Linked DNA regions of Homo sapiens. The protein of the gene in region 1 interacts with the protein of each later gene in a pairwise test. Each region holds a gene or a part of one and is shown on either strand. Other genes may lie near its edges.

Region 1 (5,612 bases):
AGCTTTTCGTCTTCAGGTCAGGTCTTAAGGAAAAATACTGCTCCTGAATTTAAAAAAAGTAAAAATAAGAAAATCGAATTTTTTGTTAAAAATGATGATACAACTATATAGAGATTTTTTACACGATTAAGTCCATTACTAACAATGATAATAACATGTACCTTAAACTGTATCTGAGAATCAATGAAACAGGCGTATATATGAGATCAGTGGGTCTCAAACTCGTGAGTCTCAGTCATCGATGTTCTTAAAAATTACGGAAAACTCCCAGGAGGGTCTGCGTGTGTGGGCTGTGTCTGTTCATATTTATCACACAGAAATTAAAACAGAGAAACCTACAAATTATTAATTCCTTAAAATAATTAAATACTCATTACAAACACAAAATGTAGTGAGAACAGTGACACTGCTTTCTATTTTTGCAAACCTTTTTGCTGGCTGGCTGGCTTAAAACAAGCCAGCTAAATTCTCACATCTGCATTTAGCCTGTTGCAGTGTGTTGTTTTGGTTAAATATATGTATTTTTAAAATTACAACCTATATATAATTATGGGGTTAATACTACTCCAAAATTCAATAACTTTCGAAGTCTAGTTACGATGTGGAATATGAAATCATATTAAGATTTTTACACTGTTGCATTAAAATGTACTGGTCTATCGGCCAGGCGCAGTGGCTCACACTTGTAATCCCAGCACTTTGGGAGGCCAAGGCAGGCGGATCACTTAAGGTCAGGAGTTTGAGACCCGCCTGGCCAAACATGGTGAAACCGTGTCTCTACGAAAAAATACAAAAATTAGTTGGGAGTGGTGGCGCATGCTCCTTGGGGGCCGAGGCTGCAGAATCACTTGAACCTGGGAGGTGGAGGTTGCAGTGAATTGAGATCGTGCCACTGCACTACAGCCTGGGCAACAGAGTAAGACTCTGATTCAAAAAACAAAGATAAATAAAGTTAAATAATATCTCCTGGTCTGTCTTGCTCTCTGAATGGATCTTCCACCCGTTTTTGTAACAGTGTGGATTAGTCATTTGGAAAATACTACTCCACTGGATTGTACTGTTCTACCAAATATTGAAAAATTTCACTATACAATATCAAAAAATTATATATAAAACCACTGATCTCCTCAGTAAATTTTTTTTGAGATGGAGTTTCACTCTTGTTGCCCAGGCTGGAGTACAATGGCACGATCTCGGCACACCACAACCTCCACCTCCCAGGTTCAAGCGATTCTCCTGCCTCAGCCTCCTGAGTAGCTGGAACTACAGGCATGCGCCACCACACCCGGCTAATTTTGTATTTTTAGTAGAGATGGGGTTTCTCCATGTTGGTCAGGCTGGTCTCAAACTCCCGACCTCAGGTGATCCTCCTGCCTCGGCCTCGCAAAGTGCTGGGATTACAGGCATGCGCCACCGCACCCGGCCAAGTAAAATTTTTAAGTACTAGGAAGCTGTCAAGCTCCTGGCGGTAAATGTAAGTTTTTCAAAATTCTAATTTTCACTTGAGGGCTTGAATTTTGTCATTTGCAACAAATACTGTCAGTTGTTTTCATTTTCATTATTTAGTTCGTTTTACCCAAATACGAGTAACTATGGTTTGTGAGTCAGTCTTAACATATAAAAAGAGTGTTCTGGAGAGCAGCCGCTAGCTCCGCCCATAACTCAAACAACTGCACAAGTGTTTTTCCTTGAACCAAGCACCGTACTTCAGTACACAGCAGAAGTGCTTTTTGTATGAGCACGCATACTCACACAGGATACTAAAAAGGCACATTGAGATTTACTAAAATTATTATTATATCAATGATATTCGGAAATGCAGCTGGCCTTTGTCTTCTGAGTGAGTGCTGGTGAAGAATGCAGTGACTACAGTATAACTGGGTGCTGATGCCTCGATTTATGCTAAGGCACCAGCCACTTTACTCCCCTGATTTTACACACTCAGTGCAATGTCAACACGGTCAAAGAGGCAAATACTGTATTAACCTGACTATGAAAATGAGTTTAAACTGGCAGACCTCCTCAAAGAGTGGCTAGGAGTGGGACCATGTGTTGAGAACTATGGTAGCCAGTGATGATTCAGAGATGAGCATGGAATTAGACCTCAAAGTCTGGTCAAGGAGGGAGAGGGGAGATAAACAGTGCTGTAGGAGAAGCACTGTGGAGTCCCTACTGCCCCCAAACACAGTGCACCACTGTGTCCCTGTCATTCCAGCACAAGCTACATGTCTCTGTTGACATTTCCCTCACGGTGTGAAAAATTACTGTGCACTTCCTTATTCATCTTTTATCCCCCAAAACCTAACACAGAGCCTGGCATACAGGAGGTGCACAACAAATGTTTAAAAAATAGCTATACACAAATACAGCAGCAACCAGGCGTGGTGGCTCACGCCCTAACACAGAGCCTGGCATACAGGAGGTGCACAACAAATGTTTAAAAAATAGCTATACACAAATACAGCAGCAACCAGGCGTGGTGGCTCACACCTGTAATCCCAGCTACTCGGGAGGCTGAGGCTGAGGCAGGAGAATCACTCGAACCCAGGAGGTGGAGGTTGCAGTGAGCCGAGATTGCGCCGTTGCACTTCAGCCTGGGCAACAAGAGTGAAACTCTGTCTCAAAAAAAAAAAAAAAGTGGAAACAACCTAAATGTTGATCAGCTGGTGGATAAAGTAAAATGTGGTCTGTTCATACAATGGAATATTATTTGGCAATAAAAAGGAATGCAGACCCATACATGGAACGGCACGGATGAACCTGAAAACGCCATGCTCAACTGAAGAAGCCAGACAGAAAAGACCACATAGTTTATGATTCCATTTGTAGGAAATATCCAGAAAAGGCAAATTAAGTAGAGACAAGGAGTAGATTAATGGTTGCTTATTGGCTGTCTAGGGCTGAGGCAGAGAGGGAGACTTTGGGGAGATGATCGAAGGCTATGGACTTCTTTTTGCAGTGATAAAATATTCCAAAATCAATTTTTGGATTATACTTCAATAAATCATTACAAAGAAAATATATAAAGTGACCTAAGGCAGAAGAGAAAGTGGGAAGTAATTCTAAATGTGCCCTCTAACAGGGGAAGAAACGGGATTGGGTCACCACGAAGTCCAATGAGTAAAAGAAAAGGCCAGGCCTGGCACAGTGGCTCACACACGTAGTCCCAGCACTTCGGGAGGCCAAGGCAGGAGGATCTTTTGAGCCCAAGAGCTCAAGACCAGCCTGGGCAACACAGTGAGATCCCATCTCTAAAAAAACAAACAAACAAAAAAAAAAACACTTTTTAAAAAAAATTATCCAGGCATGGTAGCACATGCCTATAGTCCCAGCTACTTGGGAGGCTGAAGCAGTAGGATCACTTGAGCCCAGGAGACTGAGGCTGCAGTGAGCCGTGATCACACCACTGCACTCCTGCCTGGGTGACAAAGCAAGACCCTGTCTCAAAAAAAAAAAAAAAAAAAAAAAAAAAAAAAAAAAAAAAAAAGAAAGCCAACTTTTGCAGGCGTCACAATAGAGAGACCAGACGGAATAAAGAAACTGAAGATGGAATTTCTTCCAACATTAGCCGCATTACTTCTTATGGAGTAGACACTTACAAAATTAAAAGAGTCAGATTAGAACCAGAAAGAAGTGAAGTACTAGGTGAAGGGGGTGGGGGGAAACTAGAAAGAGTTGGCCCTAAGGTGAAGGTTAACCAAGAGAAATATGCCAGAGTGAAAAGTAAGCAACTAAAGCTATCACTAGGCCAGTCACTGCCGGCCTATCATTCATCCTTCTAAACAAGAAATTTCATCTCACCTTGTATTCATCCAACCAGACATGTGCCAGCCGCAAAGAGTTGTGTGTCATGGTGTCCTGGCCTTCGGGAGATCCATATGGTCGCCTTTTTCGGAAAATGTGTCCTACTCTAGAGCAAGGGATGATGAAGAGCTTACCGCCACACATCCAGATCTGGCCAGAAGCAAAAACAGGTGTTAACAGTTGCCTCATGTTGTTGTGAAACCAATGTATGAATTTTCAATGAAATTAATCTTTATTCAATAGGTGTTTATGAAACTTGGCAAGATATTTATCTTATTAGATACAAATATTCAAATAGAAGGAAATGAGAAGGTACACATTGTTAGAAATTGTCTGTCTTTATCATTACAAGGAACTAAATGCTAAAACAATGCTATAGTCAGCATTTACTACCATAAGTCTGAAATTGCACTTACCCAACTTTGTTGCTTTAACAGATCAAGAGACTTGATCTTAGGCACTTAAGAACAAGAAGTGCTTATTTTTATTTATTTATTTATTTATTTTCTTTTAAGAAGTGCTTATTACCTGTTCTCTCATTTTAGTTTCACAGGTACTTGCTTATACAATGCATATTCTTTTTTGGAAAACAGATTTTTTAATATAAAATATATAGAATAACTCCAGATTAAGATTCAAAAGACCTTAGCTCTGGTCTAAATTCTGTCCTTGACTATCTGAATTACTTTGGAGTTAAGTTCGTTTTTGTGGGATTAGATTGCCTTATCTAAAAAGAGACTGAACTTTTAATAATAAAATCTATTAAATAAGAAGCATAATAAAATCTATTACGCCTTTAACCCTAACATTCTAAAACTTACAGAATGAAAACCTGCTTTTTCTTTTTTTTTTTTTGTTGAGACACAGTCTCGCTCTTGTCCCCCCGGCTAGAGTGCAGTGGCGCTTGGCTCACTGCAACCTCTGCCTCCCAGGTTCAAGCGATTCTCCTGCCTCAGCCTCCCGAGTAGCAGGGATTACAGGCACCCGCCACCACGCCCAGCTAATTTTTTTGTATTTTTAGTAGAGACGGGGTTTCACCATGTTGGCCAGGCTGGTCTTGAACTCCTGACCTCAGGATCAGCCCACCTTGGCCTCCCAAAGTGCTGGGATTATAGGCGTGAGCCACCATGGACCCAGCCAAAACTTGCTTTTTAAAAATACTGTAGTCAATACATTTGCAGAAATACAGAAGGACATATGAACAAGTATCATGGTATTATCTGATAGGGATTCTGCTAACTGGACTAGGAGATGGTTGGGAGAAATACTGGGATATTTGCTTGGAAGGAGAAGTCTCAGCTCTCCCCTCGCCCTCTTTCTGCCTTTCCCAAAGACTGTCTACACCATGGTCCTCTGAGCCACAGACTCCACCTATGCTGTCACCTTTCAAACCTTAGCAATTGGAGAAGACAGATAATGCGAGGTGGATTTCCTCCTCGGGACAGGGGTGCCTGTATACACAAAGGACTTGGTAAGCTATACATGGGGTGATGGTATAATGCAGCATCAAACTGAGCTGTTTCTGAAAGTACAATGGGAAGCTATTTATTTTTCCAAGAGAACAGGTATGAACTAGGATGGTCTTAGGCCTCAGGGAAATCTGGTCACCCTGACTATATGACTATATGTATCTGGTAGTATCAATAAAATAAACCAACAAAAAAAGAACAAACCTTTAAATTAGCACATTAAGACATTTTAAATTTATATCCAACCATTCATTACAACAATACTTTTATAATTTAAAAAAATATATATATATATATACACACACACACAGAGTGGAATAACAGATACTGGAGACTCTA
Region 2 (4,556 bases), on another chromosome or scaffold:
ATATAACCGTACCACAAATCTCAGATGAGCACTCAATATTGCAGACAGTTAGGCAGACAGTTCTATTATTTTTCCTTCTATAGTCACCTTTCCACTCGCTGATGTGACGATTTCATACCTCTTCCTCTCCCTTCAAATTTCCACTACCCCCTCTCTGGTGACTCTCAACTGATGCTATTGCCTTACACTTAATTGAGAAGCTAGATGCTTTTTGAAGGAAAACAACTCATTTTCCTCCTTGCAAATCCATCAGTCTGCCTACATTTGTATCTACACAGAATGCCCTTTTTTCTTGTTAAAATGGAAGCATTCTGGCTGGGCGTGGTGACTCACGCCTGTAATCCCAGCACTTTGGAAGGCCAAGGTGGGCAGATCACTTGAGGTCAGGAGTTTAAGACCAGCCTGCCCAACATGGTGAAACCCCGTCTCTACTAAAAATACAAAAATTAGCCAGGCATGGTGATGAGCACCCGCAGACCCAGCTACTCAGGAGGCTAAGGCAGGAGAATCACTTGAACCTGGGCGGCAGAGGTTGCAGTGAGCTGAGATAGAGCCACTGCACTCCAGTCTGGGTGACAGATTGAGACTCTGTCTCAAAAAAAAAGAAGCATTCTTACCTAAGACCATTGCCTCCACTCATGCTTTAAGATCCCATTCCCTTGTACCTTCTCCACAACTTTGCAACTATTACAATCCCCTTCATTTTCTACAACATTAGATCTTCCATCTCTAATAGATGATAATGGTTGGCATGTGATCAGGTCATAAAAAGTCATTCACTGAGCCAGGTGCAGTGGCTAACACCTGTAATCCCAGCATTTTGGGAGGCCAAGGTGGGAGAAATGCTTGAGCCCAGGAGTTCAAGACCAGCCTGGGCAACATAGCAAGACCCCATCTCTATAAAAATACAAAAATTATCCAGGAGTGGTGGGGTACACCTGTAGTCCCAGCTACTTGGGAGGCTGAGGTGAGAAGATTGCTTGAGTCTGGGAAGTCGAGGCTGTGGTGAGCCGTGATCGTGTCACTGCACTCCAGCCTGAGTGACAGAGTGAGACCCTGTCTCAAAAAAAAGAAAAAAAATCATTAGTTGGACCCATCCCTTTACCCAGCGTTCCCCTCTAGCCACCATCCCACTTCTCAGTTCCTCGTTCTCTGCCCCTGATGGTTATCTGTACTTGCTGTTTCATCTTTGTCATCTCTTTTTTTCTTTTTTTTTTTTTGAGACAGAGTCTCGCTCTGTCACCCAGGCTGCAGTGCAGTGGCGCGATCTCAGCTTACTGCAAGCTTTGCCTCCTGGGTTCACGCCATTCTCCTGTCTCAGCCTCCCGAGTAGCTGGGACTACAGGCACCCGCCACCATGCCCAGCTAATTTTTTGTATTTTTAGTAGAGACGGGGTTTCACTGCGTTAGCCAGGATGGTCTCGATCTCCTGACCTCACGATCCACCCACCTCGGCCTCCCAAAGTGCTGGGATTACAGGCCACTATTAACTTATTGTCAAAATACATCACTCTCTAGGATCCTGACACTACACTTGCCCTGTTTCCCCTTCCACTTTACTGGATGCTCTTTTCCAGTCTCCCTTGCTTGTTCTTCCTCTCTACCATCTCTAAACAATGCTGTATTTTAGGGTTGCATCCTCTGCTGCTGCTGTTTCTTTGTCTTCTCTCTGCTCAGTTTATCCTGCTCCATGCTTTTAAAATTCATCTACAGTTGATACTCATTATTTGCAGATTCTGTATTTATGAATTTGCCTACTTGCTAAATTAATTTGTAATCCCCAAATCAATATTTACACTGCTTCTGTGGTCATTCATGTACATGCACAATTAGTGAAAATGTGTCTTCTGATGCTCTCGATCTCAACTGAGGGTGAATAAGGTGATGCTCTATCTTTTTGTTTCAGCTCTCATGCTGAAACAGTCTATTTAGTGCTACATTTTTTTTTGTATTTTTGTGCCTTTTATTTGTGATTTTGCTGTTTACAGTGGCCCCCAACTATAGGCTGAAGTGTTATCTAGTATTCCTAAGTGCAAGAGGACTGTAATGTGCCTTATGGAGAAAATATATTTATGAGACAAGCTTCATTCAGGCATGAGTTAGTGCCGTTGGCTATGAGTTCAATGCTAATGAATAAAATATATATATTAAATAAAGTTTCTTTAATCAGAAACACACATAAAAACAAGATTATATATTGATCAGTTGATGAAAATATGACTATTTACAACAGTTGCAGGAACCTAACTCTGTATTTTCCCTAGGAACAATTGTTCAGTATTTGCTAATTCATTGTTCATGGTGACTTTATAGAACAGGACTACTGTGAATAAGAATCAACTATATATATTATCGGATCTAATTTATATGTTTGAACTCCGTACTCATATATTCTACTACTCTTCAACTCTATGTTTGGATGTTTAATAGGTATTTAAACTTAACATGTCCCAGACAGAACTCATGTTCCCTTCCAAAATCTTTCCAATCTCAATACATTGTACAATTAGTTATCTATCCCATGCACAGGTCAGAAGCCTAAGAGTCATCCTTCATTGTTATTACGCCTGACATAAGTACTGATACTCTGTCATCAAGTCCTGTCAATTCTAGTTTCTGTATATATCTTGAATCCAAGTGTTGATCGCTATCTTACATATAGCCCCAGTCCAAACTACATCTCTTACCTAAGCTACTGCAATAGCTTCCTAACCGATCTCCCTGCCTCCATTCTACCCTTCTGCCCATGTAGATCCTCTACGTAGAAGCCAGAGTGAGCTTTCAAAAGCACAAATTGTATCATGTGACTCCATTGCAACCAGAATAAAGTTCAAACTCCAAGCAATGGTCCTCTATCATCTGGCACCCAACTGTTCTCTGACATCATCTCTCCATGCTTTGTTTTCTGTGTTCCCTCCTCATCAGCCCTTGTCCTGTTCCTTAAGAATACCAAGCTTGCATCTTTCTTGGGACCTTTCTGTTTACTGCTATTTCCACTACAATGCTCCTCCCTCATTTTCATGACTGCTTTCTTTACATCACTCAGATCTTTCCAATGTGGCTACTTTTTGAGCAGCTCTCCTATTCATTCCTTTAATATTGCCCTTTTTATTTGCATGCTTGTTGCCTGTCTTCCCCAGGTAGAATGAAATTTTCTTAAAGACAGAAAACTTTATCTTTTTTTTTTTTTGAGATGGAATTTCGCTCTTGTTTTCCAGGCTGGAGTGCAATGGCACAATCTCGGCCCACTGCAACCTCCGCCTCCTGGATTCAAGCAATTCTCATGCCTCAGCCTTCCTAGTAGCTGGGATTACAGGCGTCTGCCACCATGCTTGGCTAATTTTTGTATTTTTAGTAGAGACAGGGCTTCACCATGTTGGCCAGACTGGTCTCAGACTCCTGACCTCAAGTGATCCACCCACCCTGGCCTCCCAAAGTGCTGCTGGGATTAGAGACGTGGGCCACTGCGCCCAGCCAGGATCCTCAGTATCTTTAGATATTATTTTAATAATATTCTTATACATCATAGAGTTTCAGTAAATAGTTACTGACTTGACTCTTGATTAACTGGGGACTCTGATAAAGTATCATACATGGTTGACTGGTAGAAAATGAATTAGGTTCCGATAAAGAGAAAAAGAGAAAAGAAAACAGTAATTTGTTTAAAACAAACCTAAAACAAACAGAAACCCCTAATACTATGTCACCATATATACAGTTATTGTTTAGTTCTATAATAATTTTTCAATAAGTAAATTATAACTAGGTAAATATGAACATTAAAATTTAATACCTCTTTGACTTGTGCCTGGTATAATTTGTTATTTGAATTGTAAAGGATGCTAATTTTATCTACCTCTTTTGATCAGGAATAGTTATCTAATAACTACAGCCTGTTTTCTTAATGGAAAATTGATATTAATTGTTCCTCTGTTAGGAAGAAGAAAGCATGTAGGCCATTTTGAAGCACAAATACAGTTTAGAGTCCTTAAAAATGGTGTTAGCATCATGGATTTATGTGACCACATGATTGTCAACTCACATCTTTTGGAACTTAGTCTAGGCATTTATAAAGCAAATTATTTTACATATTAAGCTTAAAAATGGTAGAGTAAGTAAGATAATCTCTAAGCATTAAATTCATGATCTATAGGACAACCAGGTTATCAGCAAGCAGAATGGAGTGAGTTCAGATATATAGAATCTTAAGTTGGAGGGAATTTTGCTCCCGTGAGCCATAGTACAGTGAATAAATTAAGTGTAATCTGGATTAGAACTGAATACCAAGACAGACAGACGTTTGACGATGTTTGTGATGTCCTGATGTTCTTTAATCATATATCTGATATTCTTATATTCTATTCCCTTCAGGCTGGCCCTCACTGCCTTGAATAAATTTGAAGAAGCAGTTACAAGTTATCAAAAGGCATTAGATCTTGACCCTGAAAATGATTCCTATAAGTCAAATCTGAAAATAGCAGAACAGAAGTTAAGAGAGGTATCCAGTCCTGTAAGTTGTTAATGCCAAATGAGTGAAGTATTTTCTGTCATTCACA

Evidence for each region. The genes of interacting proteins can lie anywhere in the genome.
Region 2: the proteins of GALNT11 (region 1) and SGTB interact in binary tests that used the Homo sapiens proteins (3 or more experiments, as listed by UniProt).

What each region holds. Positions count from the first base shown.
Region 1 is NC_000007.14:152,111,588-152,117,199, reverse strand, and holds part of GALNT11 (polypeptide N-acetylgalactosaminyltransferase 11), read right to left. Parts: intron 3,955-5,612; coding exon 3,802-3,954; intron 297-3,801; exon of another isoform or gene 162-296; intron 44-161; coding exon 1-43. UniProt on the Homo sapiens protein: Polypeptide N-acetylgalactosaminyltransferase that catalyzes the initiation of protein O-linked glycosylation and is involved in left/right asymmetry by mediating O-glycosylation of NOTCH1.
Region 2 is NC_000005.10:65,680,610-65,685,165, reverse strand, and holds part of SGTB (small glutamine-rich tetratricopeptide repeat-containing protein beta), read left to right. Parts: intron 1-4,371; coding exon 4,372-4,510; intron 4,511-4,556. UniProt on the Homo sapiens protein: Co-chaperone that binds directly to HSC70 and HSP70 and regulates their ATPase activity.